4 linked regions of the Homo sapiens genome follow. The protein of the gene in region 2 interacts with the protein of the main gene of each other region in a pairwise test. Each region holds a gene or a part of one and is shown on either strand. Other genes may lie near its edges.

Region 1 (3,359 bases), on a different chromosome or scaffold from region 2:
CCCTGAAAACATCGAGGAAGGGCTGGGGTTCACTGAAGAGGAGAATCAGGAAACGGAGGATCTGGACCCAGGAGCCGAATTCCAGCAGGGGCGGGCTGGGGGCCGAGGGGCAAGCACAAGACTCTCCCCGGGGGATGTGTGAGGTGACGGGAGGGCCGAGGGCATCTGACGGCAGTTAGAGGCTGCGGGGATAGAGATGGGAGTCGCTGGGGGGAAACCCAGACCCAAAGCCCATTGCCAGGACCCCGACGTGGAAACATCGTGGGTGTGTGGTCCGGCGGGGGATGGGGGGGTCCCCTTGGCCGGGCTGAGGAGTGGAAGCCCCGGTGCGCCTGGGGCTGCCCCAGGGCCTGGAGGAAACAGGTCAGCACCTGGAGGGCGGGGCAGCCACCAGGGTCCCCAGGGTCATCACCAGGGAGGGCTGGGCCGGGGCCAGACACCTGGGGGCCCTAAGCAGGGCAGAGAAGCGCTGGTATAAGGGTTCCTTCAGGGCCAGAGAGGAAACTGAGGCAGGCTTGGCCCACATGAACCAGGCAGCACAGGTGGGAGTCCGGGGGCTTTTGCTGAGGATGAGGGGCGGTGCGGGCCTCAGGAGGGTCCCAGCCAAGGCCAGGGCTTATGAAACCAGACAGTGTCCCCCAGAGACCACAAAGCACCATATAGCAAAAGTCCAGAACTTTATTAATTCTCCCTGGTCCCGCCCCCGCCCCATGGGATGCTTGCAAGGTCACCAGGCCTCAGGTCCAGGGGGTCCGAAGCGCCGCAGGAGCTGCTCCTGGTCTTCCAGGTCCTTCCGCACCTTCTTGCGCATGTAGAAGATGGGGCAGTCCCGGCTGCGGGTGGGGGCAGGGGCAGGGTCAGGACCAGCCAAGGCCCAGTGCCCAGCCTGGGAGAGGGGTGGGGGCTGTTCCCAGGACTTTGGTCCCCGCCTGCTGCCCAGCCCACCCGCCCCCTCCCGCAGCGGGCTGTTTGCTCAGCAGGCACGGGGGGGGTGGGGGGGGGGAGCCGATAACAGCGGGTGCCTGGCGAGGTGCAGGGCCATGGCTGGCCGTATATCACCTGTCACCTGGCGTGGGAACCCACCCCGCCTACCCGTTCCCTGGGGAAAGCCCGGCCCCGCCCTGGGGAGGGGGCCAGGCTGGCTGGGTGTGTCGGGAGGACAGCCGTTTCCCGGGCAACACTGGGTGCCGGGCGCTGCCTCCCTAAGCACCCACCCCCTCTGGGGGGCTGGGATGGGCCCATTTTTCAGACAAGGACACTGAGGCTCAGGACAGCTCACAGCTGGAAGGGGATGGGCGGGGAGGATGCTCAGGAGAGGCCTTGGAGTCAGAGGTTGGGTCCACAACCCACAGGCCTGGGAGCTGGGAAGGGGCGGGGCAGCCCAGGGTCGGGACATGGCACACACCTGGTGCAGATGACGTCCTCGTGCAGGCTGCCCTGGCAGCGCTGGCACTGCGTCCAGAGGCGCGAGAAGCGCTCCTCCAGGGCATTCAGATGGGATACCTGGGGACGGCAGCGGCTGAGCAGGGCGCCCCCGCCTCCCCACCTGGCCCCTCCTCACCTCCCGGCCCTCTCACCTCCTTCTGATACAGCTCAGACTCCCGGGGCTGGCAGAACTCACACACGGCTCCTGTGGGGAGGCGGGTCAGCCCAAGTGCTGGGGCCCAGCCAGGAACTGGGCCACCCCATCCCTGCCCACTGCCAATCCCAGCTTCTGAAAGTCCCCAGAGGCTGGAGAACAACGGAGCAAGTGTGCTGGGAAAACTCCCCTGGGGAACTCCCGGGGTGGGGGCCGAGGACCCTCTGTGGGGGGTGGAGACAGGGGCCACCCACCCAGGGGCCCTGGGCCCACTGGGTGGCAGTGCCAGCCGATGGGGTGGGTGTCTAGGATCTGGGGTGACGGCAGAGCAGGTTGAGGGCCAGTGGGGGCCCAGTGGCCAGGGCCGCTCACCCTGGTGGCTGAGCACTGTGCGGCAGCCAATGCAGCAGTTGCGGCGTTTGGCGAAGGCCAGGAGGCCGCCCACCTTGCCCGTGAGCACCGTCTTGCAGCGCGTGTGGTCCCCCCCTGCAGGAGAGGAGGCAGGTGGTGGGCCGGTGATCTCCTCTGCCCCCCCAGGGTGCCCCCAGTCCCCTGGTGCCCCCGTACGCAGTAGCACAGCCTCGGCACGGCCCTCGCCCAGGATGGGCTCGAAGATGCGCAGGAGGGGCTTGGCCAGCTGCTGCTCCAGGTAGTACTGCGTGTCAATGGGCAGGCTGTGCTCCAGCACGAACAGCGGGTCCTGCGGCCACATGGCAGTCACACCCGGGCAGCCAGGGAAAGGGCACCGGGGTGGACACGGGGTGGTCATGGGGCCTGGGGCTTAGGGCCTAGGCCTGCCTGCGGGCTGTGACATGGGGGGGGCCTGGGTCTGGGATGGGGTCGGAGGTCACGGAGTCTCTGGGCCACAGAGTCTGTAGGGCTCTCAGGTCACCACGGAAGGGTCAGAGTTCACAAGGGGAAGCAAGGATGAGGAAGGGGTCAGGAGGTCAGAGGTCATGGGGCTAAGATGTGGGTCACTGGGGGTGGGGGTAGAGCTGGAGGATTATGAATCCAAGGGAACCCCCGGCTGGGGAGCTGTATGCACAGGGGAGGGACTGGGGCCCCTTCCATAGGGAAGCAAGGGAGGGGTCAGAATAGAGGGGGGACCTCCAGAGGGGGCCGAGGCCACACCCAGGCTGCCATGGGGGGCGGTTCTCAGGGCCCCACAGGGCACGGGAGGCCCCACCCTTCCCGCAGGCCCGCCCATCTCGGAAAGCAGAAGTGAGAGCGAGGGGGCTGGGCGGGAGCAGGCAGCCAGGTGGGCCTGACCTCCGACTTCATGTAGGCGGCCACACCCTTGGCGGCACTGATGATCACGTAGGGGACGCGGTCGCCCAGGCTGGGCGCACTCCCGGGGTCCCGCTTCCTCATCCTGCGTGGAGATGGGGTGGCGGGTGGGTGAGGGCAGGTGGGTGGCGGGGGTGGGGGCGAGGGTGTAGGAAGTGGGCCCAGCTGGCAGGAAGGAGGGGGTTATTTCTGGCCAGGCCACCCGCCCCGCGCAGGACCTCTCGGCCAGCTCCACGTGGGCCTGCTTGCCGGCATAGTCGGAGGCCGCGCGGGTCAGCTCCTTGGTGATGACCAGCTGGGAGATATCGATGCGGTTGCACAGCAGGTCCGAGATGACGTCCTGTGCGTGAGCCACCGCGCCCTCAGGGTCTCTGTAGGAGAGCGGGCCGCACAGCGTCACCAAAAGGCACTGAGGGCCAGGCTGGTGCCTCCACGGGTCTCAGGGCTGGAGACCAGGATGAGCTCTTAGGGCTGAGGCTCAGGGCAGAGAGGG
Region 2 (7,237 bases):
CTACCTGTATTCTCTCAAGCCAACCTTTTCCTAATTCCCTTTGTTAAGTGCTTATGAGTTAACATCCTTTCTCAGGTTATACACTCAACGCCTGTACAGCTATTCATTAAAAACTCTTCTTCCTTTCATTTGAAGTTATCCTAAAATTTACACTGATTTTCTTCACATATTGTTAGGAGGAGTGGGATGTGGTTTGAATCCTACTCCTCTCTCCTTCCTTCCTCCTTATCCCTCTGGTATTCACTTAAAAATTTTTAAACTTTAGAAGGAAAAAAGGCTGGATGCCGTGGCTCACACCTGTAATGCCAGGTGTGGCCACTCTGGGAGGCCAAGGCAGGAGGATTGCTTGAGCCCAGGAGTTCAAGACCAGCGTGGGCAACATAGTGAGACCCTGTCTCTACAAATAAATAAATAAAATTAAAAACAAAAAAAGGAGAAAAATTGGAAGACAAATTTAAGAAATAGTAAAATCCAATAGCTGACATGTGTGTTTTACTACATATTACACTATTCTAAGCACTTCCTATGTTATTTCATAAAATAATCTTCACAACAACCTTAATAACCATGTGTTACATATTACTATTATCCCTAACTTAAAGATGAGGAAACTAAGGCATAGTCATCTAAGTGGTAGATCTTATCCAGAATCTGCCAAAACATCACACTGTAAAAATTCAAAATTATATCAAACTTCCACTATTTTATTCAGTGAAATTAGACAACTAGAGTTCCACGGGTTTCATTTGTGTGGGGCTAATTTACCACTTACCTCACTAGTGAACATGGCACAGAAGTAATCACTACAGGCAGCCAGCACAATCCGATGGGCAGGGAAGTCTTTCTGCTCTACTCTCAATGTCACATCACAGAGGGTATTGCTCTTCCTGAGGGAGTTCATTGAATTGAGGATGGATTTAGCATGAGTATTTGTCATTATGTCTTTGGGGGCCATAATGCCTCCCATAAAGCAGTGCGGAGAAAGAACAAAATGGGTCCTTGGATTCTGCAACTACAAGAGGGAAAAAAAAACAATGAGCATATTCAAAGAACTAGGGCAACTGAACATATTTAATTAGCTTTACAAATTAAGAACCTAAGAGGCTTCCTCAGACCCAAACATACACAAGTTGAGGGCACTCCTATGCCTGGCATCACCACCAACCACTAGCCACTATCTAGTCCATGTAAAAGCTCTCTCTTCTTCCTCTGAATTCCTCTATCACGGAGTGTCCCTACCACTTGACATTTAATATGATCAATGCTGAAATGTAAGTAGAGATAAACAATATATGTCTTGTAAATCTTGACAAGGTTCTTGTCTCAAATGATAAACCGAAAATATAAAATTTCTTAAAGGTGTTATATTATTACTATTTAATGTCCTTAAGTAGATAAGTATTTAGAGCATACATAAAAAGAGGATCCTGCTTTATATGTATGCTTTCTATCCTAGAAGTTGCACAATAAATGTTTAGAATTTAATGTAAGAAAAAGTGTGTATTCAACTTCAACTTAGAGCAAGAAAGGCCACTCAGTAAAAATAAACTTTTTTCTAAAGAAGTATCCAAATGATATGTCTGATGACTTCCAAACATATCTGGATTTCTTCTTAAAATGAAACTTCAGGCCGGGCCCAACAGCTCACTCCTGTAATCCCAGCACTTTAGGAGGCTGAGGTGGGTGATCAGTTGAGGTCAGGAGTTTGAGAGCAGCCTGGCCAACATGGTGAAACCTAGTCTCTACTAAAAATACAAAAAATAGCCAGGCGTGGTGATGCGCGCCTATAATCCTAGCTACCAAGAAGGCTGAGGCCCGAGAATCACTTGAACCCAGGAGGTGGAGGTTGCAGTGAGCCGAGATCACACCACTGCACTCCAGCCTGGGCAACAGAGCGAGACTCTGTCTCAAAAAAAAAAAAAAAAAAAGAAACTTCAATTGAGGACCCATTACCTACACTGAATAATGGAAACCACGCAAGTTATCGATGGACTTACACTTGCTTAAGATATTGAAGCTCTTCAACAAGAGGGTATTCCTACTCTACATCTGTGAATGTCCATTACTGTTAAAGAATCGATATTGGAATCCAAAACTTTCTGAAATGATCCGGGGGGAAGGAAATCAAACTGTGGTCTCCAAAAGTCCACAAGTCACAATTAATCTTTCAACAGGAAAAATGAGATCCTAAATTCTCATCTACTTCTGTTTGTAGTTGGCATTTTACTCTATAAGCACTATAGATAATTCCTCCAACAACTCTGCAAGACCCATTTTACAGAAAAGCGGGTGATTCATCAAAGCATATGTTTTTCAAAAAGACTTAAGTCAACTTAGTTGCAACTCTAGGGGTGTAAAAAGGTCTAGAACAAATGTCCATTTACTATGAAGACAGCCCGGGGGGTCTTTTATCGTTTCCGTGTCAAAATGACAGTACCCCGGTGCAGAGTGGTCTTCCTTCTAGGGGATTCCTGCCTCAACACTCCAAGTCTCAGCATATCCTTCATCCTCACCCTTCTGAAGTGACCTATTTTCTAGAACTTTCGTTAACATCTGAATGGAGGGATTCCACTTCGGGAGATTCGGGGCAGGGAATGGGTAGTAAACTCGGGAAAGACTAAATTCTAGAGAAGGAAACGAAGTCCTTCCTCCTAATACCACCAGGCATATGGCCGCCACCGCCAGGTGGAGGTATCGGAGAGGGGCAGTTCAGGGGGAGAGTTGAGAGGGTGACCGAGGCCAGATGCCCCACCCCACTGCCAGCCTTCCTCCTCTGTTGGGCATGTCTCCCATTCCGCCTTGCAGGGAGACCAAGGATGGGGGGTAGGGCCATAACCCGGAGTTGACGGACAGGAAGGGAAGGGCTGACTGCCATCACTTCCGCGCAACTCACCTCCGCTCCCGAACCCACACAGCCGCACCGGGCCCGTCCCCAGCCTGTGGGGATGGAGTGCGGCGCGGGGCTAGCAGGCGGCTCGGGAGGAGCCGAAGCGCCGCCCAGACCCGGAGGCTCTGGAGGCTCTGGAGCCGTCCGGGTCTGGCCCCTGCGGCCGCGCGACGTGATGACGCAATGCAGCTGGAGCACCGCCCTCCCCCCGCTCCAGAGTCTGCGTCACGTGAGGAGGTGGTGTCACGTGACCTGTCTGTACCCTAGCGCGGGGCTTCTGTACGCTGCTAGGAAGCCGAATTACAAAAAGGTCGGGTGGGCAGGGAATGGTGGCTCACGCCTATAATCCCGGCACTTTGGCAGGCCGAGGCGAGCGAATTACCTGAGCTCCGGAGTTCCAGACCCGCCTGGGGATCACGGCAAAACCCCGTTTCTACAAAAAAAAAAAAAAAAAAAAAATTAGCCCGCACCGCGCCTGTAGTCCCAGCTACTCGAGAGGCTGACAGGAGGATCACTTGAGCCAGGCAGCAGAGGTTGCAGTGAGCCAGGATCGCCACTGCACTCCAGCCTGGGCCACAGAATGAGACCCTGTAAAAAAAAAAAAAAAAAAAAAATGTCCAGGCGTGGTGGCTCACGCCTGTAATCCCGGCACTTTGGGAGGCCGAGGCGGGTGTATTACTTGAGGTCAGGAGTTCGAGACCAGCCTGGCCAACATGGTGAAACCCTATCTCTACTGAAAATACAAAAAAATTAGCCGGGCGTTGTGGCACGCGCCTGTAATCCCAACTACTCAGGAGGCTAATGCAGGAGAATCGCTAGAACCTGGGAGGCGGAGGTTGCTGAGCCGAGATCGCGCCATTGCACTCCGGGCTGGGCGACCGACTGAGACTCTGTCTCTTAAAAAAAAAAAAAAAAGGCCAGGCGAGGTGGCTCACGCCTGTAATCCCAGCACTTTGGGAGGCCGAGACGGGTGGATCACGAGGTCAGGAGATCGATTCTGGCTAACACGGTGAAACCCCGTCTCCACTAAAAATACAAAAAAATTGGCTGGGCGTAGTGGCGGGCGCCAGTAGTCCCAGCTACTCGGGAAGCTGAGGCAGGAGAATGGCGTGAACCCGGGAGGCGGAGGTTGCAGTGAGCTGAGATCGCGCCACTGTACTCCAGCCTGGGCGACAGAGCAAGACTCCGTCTCAAAAAAAAAAAAAAGAAAAAAGAAAAAAAAGAAAAAACAAAAAAAAGGCTGGATGTTGTGGGGTCCGGCAGGGAGCCTGGGAATGTATCTACAGCTCGGCGATTGGCTGAGCCTGAGTTCCTCCCTACCGCTCACTAGGCAGGGCAGGCAGAGAGAATTCCAACGCTTAATATGCCAAGCATCTGATTGCAGCAAGTATGTTTTACCTTCCAGGTACTGAGGAACTTTTTGACATCGAGAAAACCCACAGAGGCCTCAAATTTATTCACGTCCATTGTCCACAATGGCCTTTTCGGGCCGAACAACGCTGCGGCGAGAATCCTCTGAGCCTTAGGATCCACAGACCTCAGTATATACTCTGCATCATAATGGGCCCTGTCATCACCACTGAATTGATTCTAAGGAAATTCTAATTGATTCAGGAAATTCTAATTTATTTTGGTGCACTTAGTGACTGAAAAGGCAAAAAGCTTAATTAGTTCAGCTTATCTGAATGTCTAGACAAATTGTGTTTGGTAATACTATTATGCTCTGTGAGCCCTTTGATTCTTTTTTTTTTTTTTTTTTTTTTTTGAGACGGACTCTTGCTCTGTCGCCGAGGCTCGAGTGCACTGGCGCGATCTCAGCTCACTGCAACCTCCGCCTCCCGGGTTCAAGCAATTCTCCTGCCTCAGCCTCTCCGAGTAGCTGGGAGTACAGGTGCACACCACCACGCCCGACTAATTTTTGTGTTTTTAATAGAGACGGTGTTTCGCCATCTTGGCCGGGCTGGTCTCGAATTCCTGACCTCGTGATCCGCCCGCCTTGGCCTCCTAAAGTGCTGGGATTACAGGCGTCAGCCACAGCGCCTAGCCCTTTGATTCTTAAGGGTACTAAAACCATAGCCAAGTGGGTAGCATTCTAAATTTACAACGTGTCCCCATCTTCCATGTCATACCTTCCTGATCTAAAACTGTCCCTGACTCACACATTGTAGAGAAGAATGCAAGATTGGTATATTATTGGGGGCATTTTGGAAATATTCGTCGATTTTAATAAAATTTTCCTTCACATATACTCGTGCACATGTAAAACGATGTATGTACAAGATTGTTAACTGCAGCATTGTTTGTAGATTAGATCAACAACAACATTAAATGTCCATTAATAGGGGACTGATTCAATAAGGTATAGTACATCCATAAAATCCAATACCATGAAGCTGTGAACAATTTATATACTCTATTATTGGTGTAAAAAGGTGGAAGATATATTCATATTTGCTTGTGTATGTGTAACATGTATTTGAAAAGACAAAGTGGTAACCTTGGTTTCTTTGGGGAAAGGAACTGTTTGGTTGTGAGACAGGGTGGGAAGGAGATTTTTGCTCTTTGTAATTTATTTTGCCTTTTGAATTTTGCTTCATATGAATTAAAAATAATGTTCAGAGCCTGGTGCGGTGGTGTACACCTACCTGTTGTCCTATCTGCTTTGGAGACTGAAGCAGGAAGATTGCTTGAGCCCCGAAGTTCGTGACCAGCCTGGGCAACGTAGCAAGAGCACGCCTCAAAATATATTTATATGTTCAATTTTTTAAAAAGTAAAAATAGGCTGGGCACAGTGGCTCACGCCTGTAATCCTAACACTTCGAGAGGCCGAGGCGGGCGGATCACCTGAGGTCAGGAGTTCCAGACTGGCCTGGCCAACGTGGCAAAACCCCGTCACTACTAAAAATAAAAAAATTAGCCAGTCATGGTGGCCTGCGCCTGAAATCCCAGCTACTCAGGAGGCTGAGGCCGGAGAATCGCTTGAACCCAGGGAGCAGAGGTTGCAGTGAGCTGAGATCACGCCACTGCACTCCAGCCTGGGCAACAGAGCAAGGCTCCATCTCAAATAAATAAATAAATTAATTAAATTAAATAAAAAGTAAAAATAATTCCTTGTTTTCAGGATGTAAAATAGTACTTTAATGATATTGCCTAATTCCTGACTGTTAAATTAAGGATTTTTCCAAATATGAGAAGGAACTTAATAATAAAAGAGGCTTTGTTTAGAGTATGCCTACTCCTTTTATTCACAAAATAAAAGATGGAGAAGTTGTTAGCAAGATTATCACACCAAAGGAACTAGTTCAGACTTCTGACTTTTTTCTTCTTTTATTTCCTCTTTTTTGTTAATATTTGTCGGTACATAGTAGGTGTATATATTTAGGGGGTACAGAGGGATTTTGATACAGGCATATAATGTGTACTAATCACATCACAGAAAGTTGGGTATCCATCCCCTCAAGCGTTTATCCTTTGTGTTAAAACAATCCAAGTATACTTTTAGTTATTTTAAAATGTACAATTCAATTATTATTGACTATACTTACCCTGTTCTATCAAATACTAGGTCTTATTCATTCTTTCTAGTTTTTCGGTACCCGTTACCCTCCCCACCTTCCCCCAACCCCCACTGTCCTTCCCAGCCTCTGGTAATCATCCTTCTACTCTCTATCTTTGTGAGTTCAATTGGTTGGTTTTTAGATCCCACAAATCAGTGAGAACATGCGATGCTTGTCTTTCTGTGCCTGGTTTATTTCACTTAACATAATGACCTTCAGTTTGATTCATGTTGCTGCAAATGACAGAATCTCATTATTTTTAATGACTGAATAGTACTCCATCATGAATAAGTACCACATTTTCTTTATCCATTCATCTGTTGATGGACACTTGGGTTGCTTCCAAATCTTAGCTATTGTGAACACTGCTGCAACAAACATGGGAGTGCAGATATCTCTATGATACACTGATTTACTTTCTTTTCTTTTTTTTGAGACAGAGTCTCACTCTGTTGCCCATGCTGGAGTGCAGTGGTGTGATCTCGGCTCACTGTAACCTCCGCCTCCCAGGTTCAAGCAATTTTTCTGCCTCAGCCTCCCAAGTAGCTGGGACTACAGGTGCAGGCCACCATGCCTGGCTAATTTTTGTATTTTTAGTAGAGACAAGGTTTCACATATTGGCCAGGCTGGTCTCAAACTCCTGACCTCATGATCTGCCCACCTCAGCCTCCCAAAGTGCTGGGATTACAGGCATGAGCCACCACACACAGTTGATTTACTTTCTTTTGGGTATATACACAGTAGTTGGATTGCTGGATTGTATGGTAGTTCTAGATTTAGTTTTCTGAGGCGC
Region 3 (3,885 bases), on a different chromosome or scaffold from region 2:
CATAATCTTGTTGATGCTGATTTGGCCTGGACCCCTGACCAATCAGTTTCTTTTTTGTTTTCTTTTCATTTCTTTTTTTTTTTTGAGATGGAGTCTTGCTCTGTTGCCCAGGGTGGAGTGCAGTGGTGTGATCTCGGGTCACTGCAACCTCTGCCTCCCGGGTTCAAGTGATTCTCTTGCCTCAGCCTCCCCAGTAGCTGGGACTACAGGTGTGTGCCACGACGCCTGGCTAATTTTTGTATTTTTAGTAGAGACGGGGTTTCACCATGCTGGCCAGGCTGGTCTTGAACTCCTGACCTCAGGTGATCCACCGGCCTCGGCCTCCCAAAGTGTTGGGATTACAGGCGTGAGCCACCAGGCCCAGCCCAGAGTTTCTTGAGAAGAAAAACCACAAGACCCAGGCAGCAGCTCCCTGTGGTGCCCCATCACTGGGGAGGGCAGGGAGGGGGTCAGGTCATGCTGAGCCTGGCAAGGGTGGGAAGGGCTTGTAGAGGCCCCAGAGCCTCATTCCCATGAGGCCAGTTGTACATCCGGCCCCTGGGATCCTCCGAGCACCCTCTACAAACATTCCAGGTCCTTCCTCTGGGACTGAGCTTGACACATCCCGTGTTTGATTCCCAGAACCGAGTCCTCCCTTATACTCCCCAGGTTTCTGCCTCACTGTCCCTCACTCCTGGTTATCAAACTCCAATCAGTGAACAACATTTATTGAACACCTATGGCATTTGTGCTCAGCATTGGACTGTGTGAGGCACTAGGGGTGAGTGGTGAAACAGGGAGGGGAATAGAAGAGCCAACGGGACACTTCCTATCAGCGAGAACCTTGGGAGGGCGTGGAAGTGGGGAGGGAAGAGCTGCTGGTGGCCTAGTGACAAAAAAAATGGGAGCCGTGCAACTGGGCTGTATCTGGACTGCTCATCTGAAAGTCAATGTCTGGCTGGGTGTGGTAGCTCACGCCTGTAATCCCAGTACTTTGGGAGGCCAAGGCGGGCGGATCACCTGAGGTCGGGAGTTTGAGACCAGCCTGGCCAACATGGGGAAACCCCGTCTCTACTAGTAACACAAAAATTAGCCAGGTGTGGTGGTGCACACCTGTAGTCCCAGCTACTCGGGAGGCTGAGGCAGGAGAATCACTTGAACTGGGAGGCGAAGGTTGCTGTGAGCCGAGATGGCACCACTGCACTTTAGCCAGAGCGACAGAGCAAAACTCCATCTCAAACAAACAAACAAACAAAAAAACCCAAAAAGCCAATGTCCACGATTTCTACCTCCCAGTTGTCATGTCTGACATTTGGGCTGACGTCCCCTCTGTGCTCAGTGCCCGAGGAGAGAGCCTCTGGGGTCATCCTCCATAAGGGGACAATTCCTTCCTTCCTGGGGATGGCCCCCAAGAGGCTGGCCTTACCCAGACCCCAGAATCTAAGGGACCTGGGGGCCAGTGGCCTTGGCCCCTGCGCTGTCCCCAGGTTGCCTGATGCTGCTGGACTGCAAGGCCCGGGACCCCCTCTGCTGCTGCAGCCTTGGAGGCGCCCTCACCCCTGGGTGGTCACCCTCTCGGCAGATTCCCGGGCCGTGCACACCCCCTCGTGGTTGGTGGTCGGCACTTTTCCTTGTTTGGATTTGCTGCCTGCTCTGGGCTTCCTTGGGGGCTGCCCCGGCCTTTGTGGGTGGCTTAGAATGGAGGGTGGAGTTGGAACCTGATGCCCTGGTTTGGGCGGGGGAACCCTTAAGGACTTGCTATATGACATCCTGGGAGTCACTTTCCTGACCCTCAGTGGGCCCAACAAGTCATGGCCAAGTAAAGCTTTTGTGAGGGCCAAGAGTTTAGTGCAGAGAGCATGGTTTCTGAGCCCCCTCTCCATTCTGGAAGCTTATCTGCCAGCTGGTGGATCTCCCCAGAGATGCTGGAGGGCCTGGGAGGACTCCAAATCTTGGGGAGAGACTGTAACTTGGGTACTTTCTCCCCAGGGCCTGATTTCCAGGGGAATAACCTCCCTGAACTGGGCATCAGCAGGTGGGAGCCCTGTCTGGCAGAGAGCGGACTCCGGGAGAGAGTTAGCAGCCCAGCTCTCTCCCTCCCTTTCTGCCATGAGCTCTGCTTGTAGCAAAATCACCCATTTTGATCACTGGGACACTTCTGGGAGCCGAGCAGGGCAGCAATAGTGTCCCCACTTTACAGATGAGAGTACTGAGGCTTGCAGGTGCAGGTCCTTCTGGTGTCCAGGACAGGGGTGGGCCCCAAGCCTTTGCTGCTGTTCTGTGGCCTCTCTAAATCCTCCTGACACCTAAGAGCCATTGGAACCTTTTAGGGTCTGGAAGTCCCAGCCTGGTGGGAGATACTTGGGTGGAGCCCTGCCTCAGCCATGCCCATGAGGGGAAGGGTAAAAGGAGCTGAGACCGTCACCCTCCCCACGTCAGAGGTTGGGCATCTGTCGGATTCGCCCCCACTTGGCACACCCTCATTGCAGGCTGGCTCACCCTCAGCTGGGGGAGAAGAACAAGAGGCAAGGGGCCTTGGGCACACAGTCTGGGGGCCCCCGAAGCCCCCTCATCTTTATTCCAGTTCCTCAGATGTGGCAGTTCCCCCAGCTTCCCTGGAAACAAGTATCAGACAAAGGTGGTGGCAGACACAGGACAGGGCCCTGGGTGGGGCTTGCTGGCGCTAAAAGGATTTCTCAGCAGGCTCAGGGTCTCCCGCCCCGAATGACCCTTCTGGCCACTTCAAGCTACTCCTCTGCTGCCCGGCTTCCCTCTGCCTCTGGTTCCCCTGGCTGAGCAGGGCCTTCCTGGGCTTGACCCTGGCCCCCTTCAGCAGTTGTCTCAGACTGTTCCCGAATGTCCCTGGGGCTGGCTTTGACCCCAGCATCCCCATCTCCCTGGCACCCTTGCTCCTCCCCTCTGCTTCTTGCCTCTGACTGCCCACTGCCCTCCTCCTCTGTCACAGCCCCCTGGGTCTCAGGCCACTCCGCCCGGCGGTAGACGAGGTAGCCAGTGGTGGGCAGCCTGTGGGCCAGGGCCCCAGGGGGCAGGCGGTGGTAGCCCTGCTCCTTGTACAGGAAGAGGCCAAAAGTGTTGGGCTGGGTCACTCGGAACTTGGTGGCACAGAGCTGGTTCAGGGTGGCAATCGAGGCTTCTGGGGGCACGGCCAGGGTCTTGGAGGTGCAGCCACTGCTGGGATCCTGATAGGCTACTCGGAGGAGGTGCTATGCAGGAGGAGAAGCAAAAACAAGTACTCAGCCCCGGCTGGCATGCATCTGGCTCCAAAGCTGAGACATCAGCTTTCTGGGCTGTGCAGGGACAGGGTGGGTAGGTGGAGATCCAGTGGGAGAACCAAGCGGCAAAAGCTCTATGTGCTCCAGGGGTCGGCTTGTGGGCCACAGCCGCAGGTGCAAGGACAGCCCAGTGGGGCGCTCACAAGCCTGAGATGAAGATTTGATAGTGAGTAATTTGTGCCCCAAGCACTCTCCTGCATTAACTCATTTAATCTTCACCTCAACCCCAGGAGGTAGGTCCTATTACCCCATTTTACTGATGAGAAAACTGAGGCACGAAGTAGTTAAGTAACTCGCCCAAGTCCCCACAACCCAGTGGCAGAGCCAGGATTAGAACCCAGGATCTGTCTACAGAGTCTGGACTCTTCACCAAGGACAGGAAGGTGAAAGGCGGGGATGGCGTCTGGCTCTGAGGACACGGTGGAGGGCCTGTTACCTGGAAGCAGTGGGTGGCAGGCAGGCGGCGCTGCTCCCAGAGGCTGAGGGAGCGCCGTAGCTCCTGCACGGGGCTCAGTGGGAGGGTGTGGGCCTGACCCAGGCCACTCAGCAGGGCCAGGCTGGCAGAGAGGCTGGTCAGGTAGTAGCCACCTGGGACACAGGGTGGAAGAACACG
Region 4 (7,042 bases), on a different chromosome or scaffold from region 2:
CACCTTACCTTACAGTTAGGTGACTGTTGCTATATTTCAGGGAGACCGGGGGAACAAACTGTCATTTTTTCCAAGCAATTTATAGGCTTTTCTTTTATGGTTACCTTGAATCTCATGACTGATCATGTAATTATCCTGAGTTGACTTCTGAGAATTTGAGAACCGACTTGTGATCTGCTTGAAACGTGGCCCAGGACTTTCTGCTTATACAGCCCTGCCAATTAACATAACATCAGCTTTATTTTACTGTTTGATCCTGATTTTTCCTTTGCCTTAATTTCTTTGTCTAATTTTGCCCTATACTACATACACTTTGTGTACATATGTACACACACACACACACACACACACAATAGTTTATTTTTTGTCAGCCACCACAAATCCTTTTTATAGGAAAATCTTTAAATGGTGAAATGAATTGTCCCAGTTGGTGGTGGTCTGTTCTTTATATTCTGATTTTCTTCAAATAAGATGTTGGAGTCCCTTAAAACTGAGAAGAGACAACTGATTTTATTTAGAAGCATATTCTCTGCCCTGTGTCCTGGTGTTTACTTTTCTTTTTTCCTTTCACTTTACTTTTGTACGCAGCCGTCTCTCTATTCTCCAGCCAGTCACCCCACCCCCAGGCAACATGCAGCAGTACTACTTAACAATACCTGGTCTACCAGGGATTCTAACCTATAACATAGTATGCACTAGAAAGCCCCAGACACAGCCCCACATCCCCAGGACACAGTAAATTGTATAACTATCTGCTCTCTGGTTTGTTTCAGGGAAACTGACAGATCTTTATGAAAAACTTTGCAGAGAGTGGTATGCTGAAAAGAAATAATCACATAATCACACACGGCCTCCCCCAAGGAGCATTTAGGGCCCTATCATTAATCTTTGTAACACTCCTATGAAAGAGGTGGATGGCATGTTCTCTCAGGCCAGTGTTTCATAGGTGAGGGGACAGGGCAGGCCTGGGCTTGCACATGGTCTAGAAGGGAGGAAAGAAAACTCAGCACCCTTGAGGCTCCCACCAGTCAGCCCCAGCACTGACATCTCCCATGCAGCCCGCAGCCTGGGCAATGCAGATTTTGTCTTTTACAGGAGTATTTAGCTTTTTGGGGGCAGGTATCCATATATGGCCATCCATAGCTCTTTCCGGCTTGGCAGTGCTCCCCGGACAAGCAACTCCTCACTGCACCCCATGCTGTCAGTAGCTGGCAGTAGGTTGAAATTACAGGCCTCTAGGCAAAGGTTTTTCAGAAGGTTTCGGCTCCAGATCACCTCTTACAGAAATGTATGAAATGCTCTGACCACCCACCGTTGGGATTTCCTCCCTGTGCAAACCTGAGCTGTTTGCTGGGCCCCAGCAACTTCTCTAACCCCTTATTCTCATAGGCACTCAGCACCAGGAGCTGAAAATAAAAAGGTGGCAAAGTCAGCTCTGATGCCAATCTTCTGCCACACAGCTGTGTATAATGGTTTTGCTGTTATCATTTTGCAGCCTGAATCACTTTCCCTGAAATGCTGCAGGTCTGCACTTGTGGCCTAGTAACTATTTAATGAAACTGATAATTAATCTCCTATACCACGCTCTGTTACTTGTAGAACTAACGTCCACAATGCAACAGTAGAAGAATAAAATGCGTAAAGATGAGAAAAAAGACAGCAAGTTGTCAAGATACAGTAATTGGTAAGGAATTAAAAATAGAACCTCCTACCAGATTACAAGATGGCCTCTCCCTTCCAAGATGGATATCAAACACTTTTTTGTCACAATCTGAAGAGATACAATTATCATAAGCCCCAGAAGGGGTTTCTTCCTCATGTGCTTAGTGAGGTCTGTCTTTAGGAACCCAAACAACTGTTATAAAGTGGATTCCTATATATCTAGGAAGTGAAAAGCTAGAAGGCTAGAAGGCAAAAACTTAAAGTTCTGTGCAATACAATAATTACGTTACAAGTAATAATGTTTACAGGGCACTCAACATATGCCAGGCATGATAAACAAAATGCTATAGAAGCATTGCTTCATTTAATACTCATAAAAATTGATGAGAGATATTTCCCCATTTTACAGATGAGAAAACAGAGTGTCAGAAGTAAATTGCTTCAGATCACTCCTCCAGGAAACCAAACAGCCTGAGTTTGAATCCAGTTTTTTCTGACCTCATGGTTTTTTTTTTCTGACCTCATGATGATCACTCTCCAGTTTTGCAACATCCTGAAATGTCTTCTGAATTATCAAATAAAAATTAACTCATTTGTGTTAAGTAGCAGTGTCATATTTTAATATCAAGTGGGTGGTCTTCCGAATATGTAAGTTTTGTAAAATAAGCCAACAAAAAACACACCTCACAGAACTAAGAAATCAGATGCTCAGATTGAAGGGATATTGTGGGAACCAAATAAAATCTTGAATATGAAAAATCTTAGGAAAAGACATAGCATTCTACGGAAGAATGACAATGTCATTGCTATCAAAAATATCAGTGTGGGCTGGCTGCTATGGCTCACGCCTGTAATCCCAGCACTTTGGGAGGCCGAGTTGGGCAGATCACTTGAGGCCAGGAGTTTAAGAGCAGCCTGGCCAACATGGTGAAACTCTGTCTCTACTAAAAATACAAAAATTAGCCGGGTGTGGAAGCATGCATCTGTAATCCCTGCTACTTGGGGTGCTGAGGCAGAAGAATCTCTTGAACCCGGCAGGCGGAGGTTGCAGTGAGCCAAGATCGAGACACTGCACTCCAGCCTGGGCGACAGAGTGAGACTCCGTCTCAAAAAAAAAAAAAAGTCAATGTGTATGTGATATGTGTGGTAATTCTCAGTTGACCAGCATATTCTGTATATCAAAATATGTGCTTACCTAACCAATTTACACACCGGTCACTTGTGAACAAGCCACCTTTTTACCTCGTTGTCCTGTGAGATGCAGAACCACGCATATTTTAGAGCTTAGGCATTAGAACTTTTCCTTTTTCAACTTATTTCTGGGCCACATCCACGTCCCCAGTTTCTCTGGAAAAGGCTGAGAAAACTCCTAAAGCGCAACAAAGTGTTAAGTTGCTGACACACGAATTACAATTAGGGTCACCGTCAAGGGAGCCGATTTACGGCCCCCCTCCTCCGTTTTCTTGTTACCTATCAACGCGGCTGCATACACTAGCAGGTAGCAGCACCTGTAATTAATTTGCCCCCACGTGTCTCATTTGATGGGGGGGGGCGTTTCCAGCTCTGATGTGCGCGGCGTGGAAACAGTATTAAAGCCGCTCAGGACAAGGAGATGTAAGGCTCCCAGAAAGACCTCCTTACTTGTTCCGAACTCGAGTTATGAAGAAGACAGCGCATGGTTTATTGACCAATGAAACAACCAGAGAACTTTCTTCTAAAGGTTTTAAGGAAGAGTGATTACACTATATAAATAGCGCTATTTCAGGTTTGAACAATTTGAGAGGCCCGTTGTAGCCTTTCAACTCCTCCTTCCTCACATAATCTAAGAGAAAAGAAGACTAAGATAGTTGCAAATCTCAGGGTAGGTCCTCACGGAGGAAAGACGAACACTGGCCTGACCCTGGGCTTTAGAAACCCATGGACAACAGGAAGGAAGCTTATTAACCCCTCTCTTCCCCCTCCCTCTTCTCCCCGGTGGAGAATCAGCTCCTCCTCCTCCCGGTCGTGAGACCCTGGTGCAAAATGCAAACAACCGCCCGCTTTCCCCACCCTGCGCGCTTCTCCCAGAGGAGGGAGAGGGAAGAGGCGAGGGCGCAGCCCCAAGCCGAGTCCAGCAAGTCTGTCAATCGGACGTGAACGTCCCGACGAGACAACTTGAACCTCAGGGCCCTCGCGCCAGCCGGACACCGCAGGTACCCCCTTTACCTGCTTCTCTGCTGGGTTTGCATCCGATACCCCAACTCCTAGCCTCATTTTCCCCCCAGCCCCATAATATTCCGGACCCCTGCTCCCCGTGCAGGTGGTGCAAACGCCCCTGCTCTCCGGCGCCCCCTGCCGGGAAGAGGGAAGGCGGCGGCGGCCGCGGAGGAGCAGGACGCTTGGTCCGGACGGAGCTCGGCGCTGGGAAGAAGCCGGGAGCTTCCCTGATGGTGCCGCCGCCTCCGAGCCGGGGAGGAGCTGCCAGGGGCCAGCTGGGCAGGAGCCTGGGTCCGCTGCTGCTGCTCCTGGCGTTGGGACACACGTGGACCTACAGAGAGGAGCCGGAGGACGGCGACAGGTAAGCGCTGCAAGCCCCAGCGGAGGGCGAGCTCCTGCTTGATGCGCGCCCGGCTCGCGGGGTGCGGGCGGTCCTCCCCGGCGCCCACTCCCACAGCGATCCGCACGCCCTCACTTCTCCGGGGATAAGGAGAGTGCTCAGCTGTCCTGGGCGACACTTCCCTCCGCTCCCGGGTATCAGCCTTTGCGCCCTGCCATCCGTGGGTCGCGTCAGGGATACCCTTCGCCCCGCGTTCCTGCCTCCCCCCGGGTGCCACACTGGCTGGCACAGCTCGTGAACCCCGCTTCCTTTCTCCTGGAGCTGGTTCGCTTCGTCGTGACCCTCGCGTGGCTCGTCCCTGTGGCCGGAGTCTGCCCCGCGTACGCGTTTGGGGACCAGCCCCTGCCCAGAGCGCCGGGACGGGGAGCCTGGCGATCCCCACGCGCCAGGGATTCCCCAGCGCGCGCTGCCCGCCTCCGCTCTCCCGCTGAGAATCGAACATTTCCTCTGCACTTTTTCATAGAGAAATCTGCTCAGAGAGCAAAATCGCGACGACTAAATACCCGTGTCTGAAGTCTTCAGGCGAGCTCACCACATGCTACAGGTAAGCCTGGGGGCTCTGCGGGCTGTTCGCCACTGCGCACCGGGGCTGGCTGGGGAGGCGGCGCTGTAAAGGAGGGGTTTGGAGACGCGCTTGGGACCGGAGCAGCTTTTACGCTGGAACCTGCTGGGTGCGTGCCGCGCGGTGCGAATCTTTGAGGGTTGGTTGGATCGGAGTCAGAGCAACACTGAGCAACTGACTTTGCGTCTAGGGTGTGTGCCCTGAGATCCTGAGGATGGTTGCCGCTCCCTGAAATACTTGTGTGGAAGTCTGTGAAGGAGATTGGATTGGATTTTGGGTGTAAACAGTGGGGCATAGCAAACACGGGTGGCTGCTTTCGTATTTGTGTTTTGTTTTGAAAGTACAGCGTCAACAAGGCAATTCTTGGCACTTGTCTGTCTTCTGACCTTCTGTTGGGGCAGAGTGTGGCTGTCACGGCCTCTGGACAAAAAAGTAGGGGGAGGATTGTGAGTGGTTGTGTTGAGTGAAAACAAAAAGATTGTTGGGGCAGAGGAAAAAAGTCTTTCTAAAAATGTGGGCCACAGATTCACCTGGGTATTTGTTAAATGAGTGACCCGGGTGCTTGTTAAAACTAAGCGTGGATGGGGCTAGGGAATCGGTAGTTATAAAATGTTCCCCAGGTGGTTCTTGTCTCTGAAAGGAGAGAACCACTGTTCTGCTTGCAGCCTTTTGGAGATGAGGGTTGATTTAGGTTTTTCACCATTGAATTCTTGGTTCTGTTCCAGTGCTCTCACTGGATAGGGGAACATGCACCCATAAACGTTTATTGGATATCTGCGTTTTAGAGGCGCTGTACAAGGTAATGTGATCATATGCCCACACCTGACTGTCTCTGGAGACTCACATGCTCTGTTCGGGTTGCCAGGATAAATACTGAGTAGTACAAGGTAACGCAGCAGTCCCTAGAAACGAACTTGAAAGAAAACAATGTTTTATTCCTTATAAGGTTGTAGCCTGTGAATCAATCATAGCGTTTCTTGCAGGTGAGAGCATTTCATATACCCAAAGGTTCAGACCAAGTGGTTCCACGGCTGTCAGTTTATGGGTGCAAAAGCACCATCAGTTACATCGCGTACTTCTGCTCTTAAATCTGTTGTTGGCAGTGAAGGGACAATAATCAGGCAAATCAAGTCACTCCTTGGGCTTAGGAAAGGCTCCTTTCTCTTGGCGTGTGCGGGGGGTGAATGCTGAACAAAATGAGAGAGGTAGTAGAGGAGAAAGGAGTATGTTCAATTGGCAGGTTAAGACTTAAAGAGGCTAACTGGGTGAGCAAGGTCACCGAGCTGGTGAAGTGACCTGGTGGTGCTGGCAGCAGGATTGCTTGCCTGGTTCCAGCCGTGTCTTTCATCCACACGACCACAGTGTTTCTTAGGACACATTGTTTTCCTATCAGCACAGTATAAAGCCTCGAATTTAACATGGGAAATGTCTCTGAGATGGTTTGCTCATTTTTTCAGTCCCTGAAGGTCGGACTTCACATAAATCAGTGACAGTTACAGAATGCATGTTAGATTTTCAGAAACCATTTGGTGCCTGATTGTTTGTTAATGCCATTACTGTCATCTTTTCCAGACTTCTTAAAGCAGTGTGGTGTTTCTTTTATACTCTTTGAACAGGAGACACTAGCAGCACCTTGGCATGTGTTTTCACTAATAGCTACTCAAATTGCTATGAGATCTCGCAAAAATGACATTTTATATCAAGGAGAATAAAGAACTTTGTTTAAAGGAATGGGAAACGATGCTTTCAGCTTGAAAGTGGTGTTGATCCTTGTGTATATGAAAAGATCTTAGATTTTGTTTTTAGATCTATTTTCTCTATGGAAGTCGAGAGTTCTCTGTATTCCGTTGGTCTTATCCTGTTTCTATAATCTACTCTTCTTGAATCCCAAGAATAGAGGATATTATTTTCCTTAGTTTGTGACTTGATTGTCCTAGCCCTTTATACCCTCACTACCTCAAGTATCATCTGGAAACCAGCCGCACAGCATGATTTTGGGAGCTTGTTGGAATCCTGGGCCTCTGCCCCCAGATCTCTTAAATCAGAATCTGTCTTAATGAGAGATGCATAAAATCTTGAAGCACTGCTGTAAGAAACCAGTGTCCTCATCCCCAGGACGCATGCAGACCTATTTAGACAGATCCTTAAAGGAGCATGGAGGCCTTTCAGTTGACCAAACAGTTAGCTCTCCTACCTCACTAAACTAAAGGTTAAACTAAAGT

The links.
Region 1: the proteins of KLHL12 (region 2) and POLD1 interact in binary tests that used the Homo sapiens proteins (3 or more experiments, as listed by UniProt).
Region 3: the proteins of KLHL12 (region 2) and RIN1 interact in binary tests that used the Homo sapiens proteins (3 or more experiments, as listed by UniProt).
Region 4: the proteins of KLHL12 (region 2) and CCBE1 interact in binary tests that used the Homo sapiens proteins (3 or more experiments, as listed by UniProt).

What each region holds. Positions count from the first base shown.
Region 1 is NC_000019.10:50,415,316-50,418,674, reverse strand, and holds the end of POLD1 (DNA polymerase delta catalytic subunit), read right to left. Parts: intron 3,238-3,359; coding exon 3,085-3,237; intron 2,952-3,084; coding exon 2,849-2,951; intron 2,280-2,848; coding exon 2,147-2,279; intron 2,066-2,146; coding exon 1,952-2,065; intron 1,631-1,951; coding exon 1,578-1,630; intron 1,504-1,577; coding exon 1,406-1,503; intron 834-1,405; coding exon 728-833; 3' UTR 661-727; downstream 1-660. UniProt on the Homo sapiens protein: As the catalytic component of the trimeric (Pol-delta3 complex) and tetrameric DNA polymerase delta complexes (Pol-delta4 complex), plays a crucial role in high fidelity genome replication, including in lagging strand synthesis, and repair.
Region 2 is NC_000001.11:202,924,196-202,931,432, forward strand, and holds the start of KLHL12 (kelch-like protein 12), read right to left. Parts: upstream 3,040-7,237; 5' UTR 2,894-3,039; intron 1,013-2,893; coding exon of another isoform or gene 968-1,012; coding exon 773-967; intron 1-772. UniProt on the Homo sapiens protein: Substrate-specific adapter of a BCR (BTB-CUL3-RBX1) E3 ubiquitin ligase complex that acts as a negative regulator of Wnt signaling pathway and ER-Golgi transport.
Region 3 is NC_000011.10:66,329,550-66,333,434, forward strand, and holds the end of RIN1 (ras and Rab interactor 1), read right to left. Parts: intron 3,861-3,885; coding exon 3,709-3,860; intron 3,204-3,708; coding exon 2,727-3,203; 3' UTR 692-2,726; downstream 1-691. UniProt on the Homo sapiens protein: Ras effector protein, which may serve as an inhibitory modulator of neuronal plasticity in aversive memory formation. Can affect Ras signaling at different levels. First, by competing with RAF1 protein for binding to activated Ras.
Region 4 is NC_000018.10:59,694,389-59,701,430, reverse strand, and holds the start of CCBE1 (collagen and calcium-binding EGF domain-containing protein 1 precursor), read left to right. Parts: upstream 1-4,007; 5' UTR 4,008-4,088; coding exon 4,089-4,219; intron 4,220-4,721; coding exon 4,722-4,802; intron 4,803-7,042. UniProt on the Homo sapiens protein: Required for lymphangioblast budding and angiogenic sprouting from venous endothelium during embryogenesis.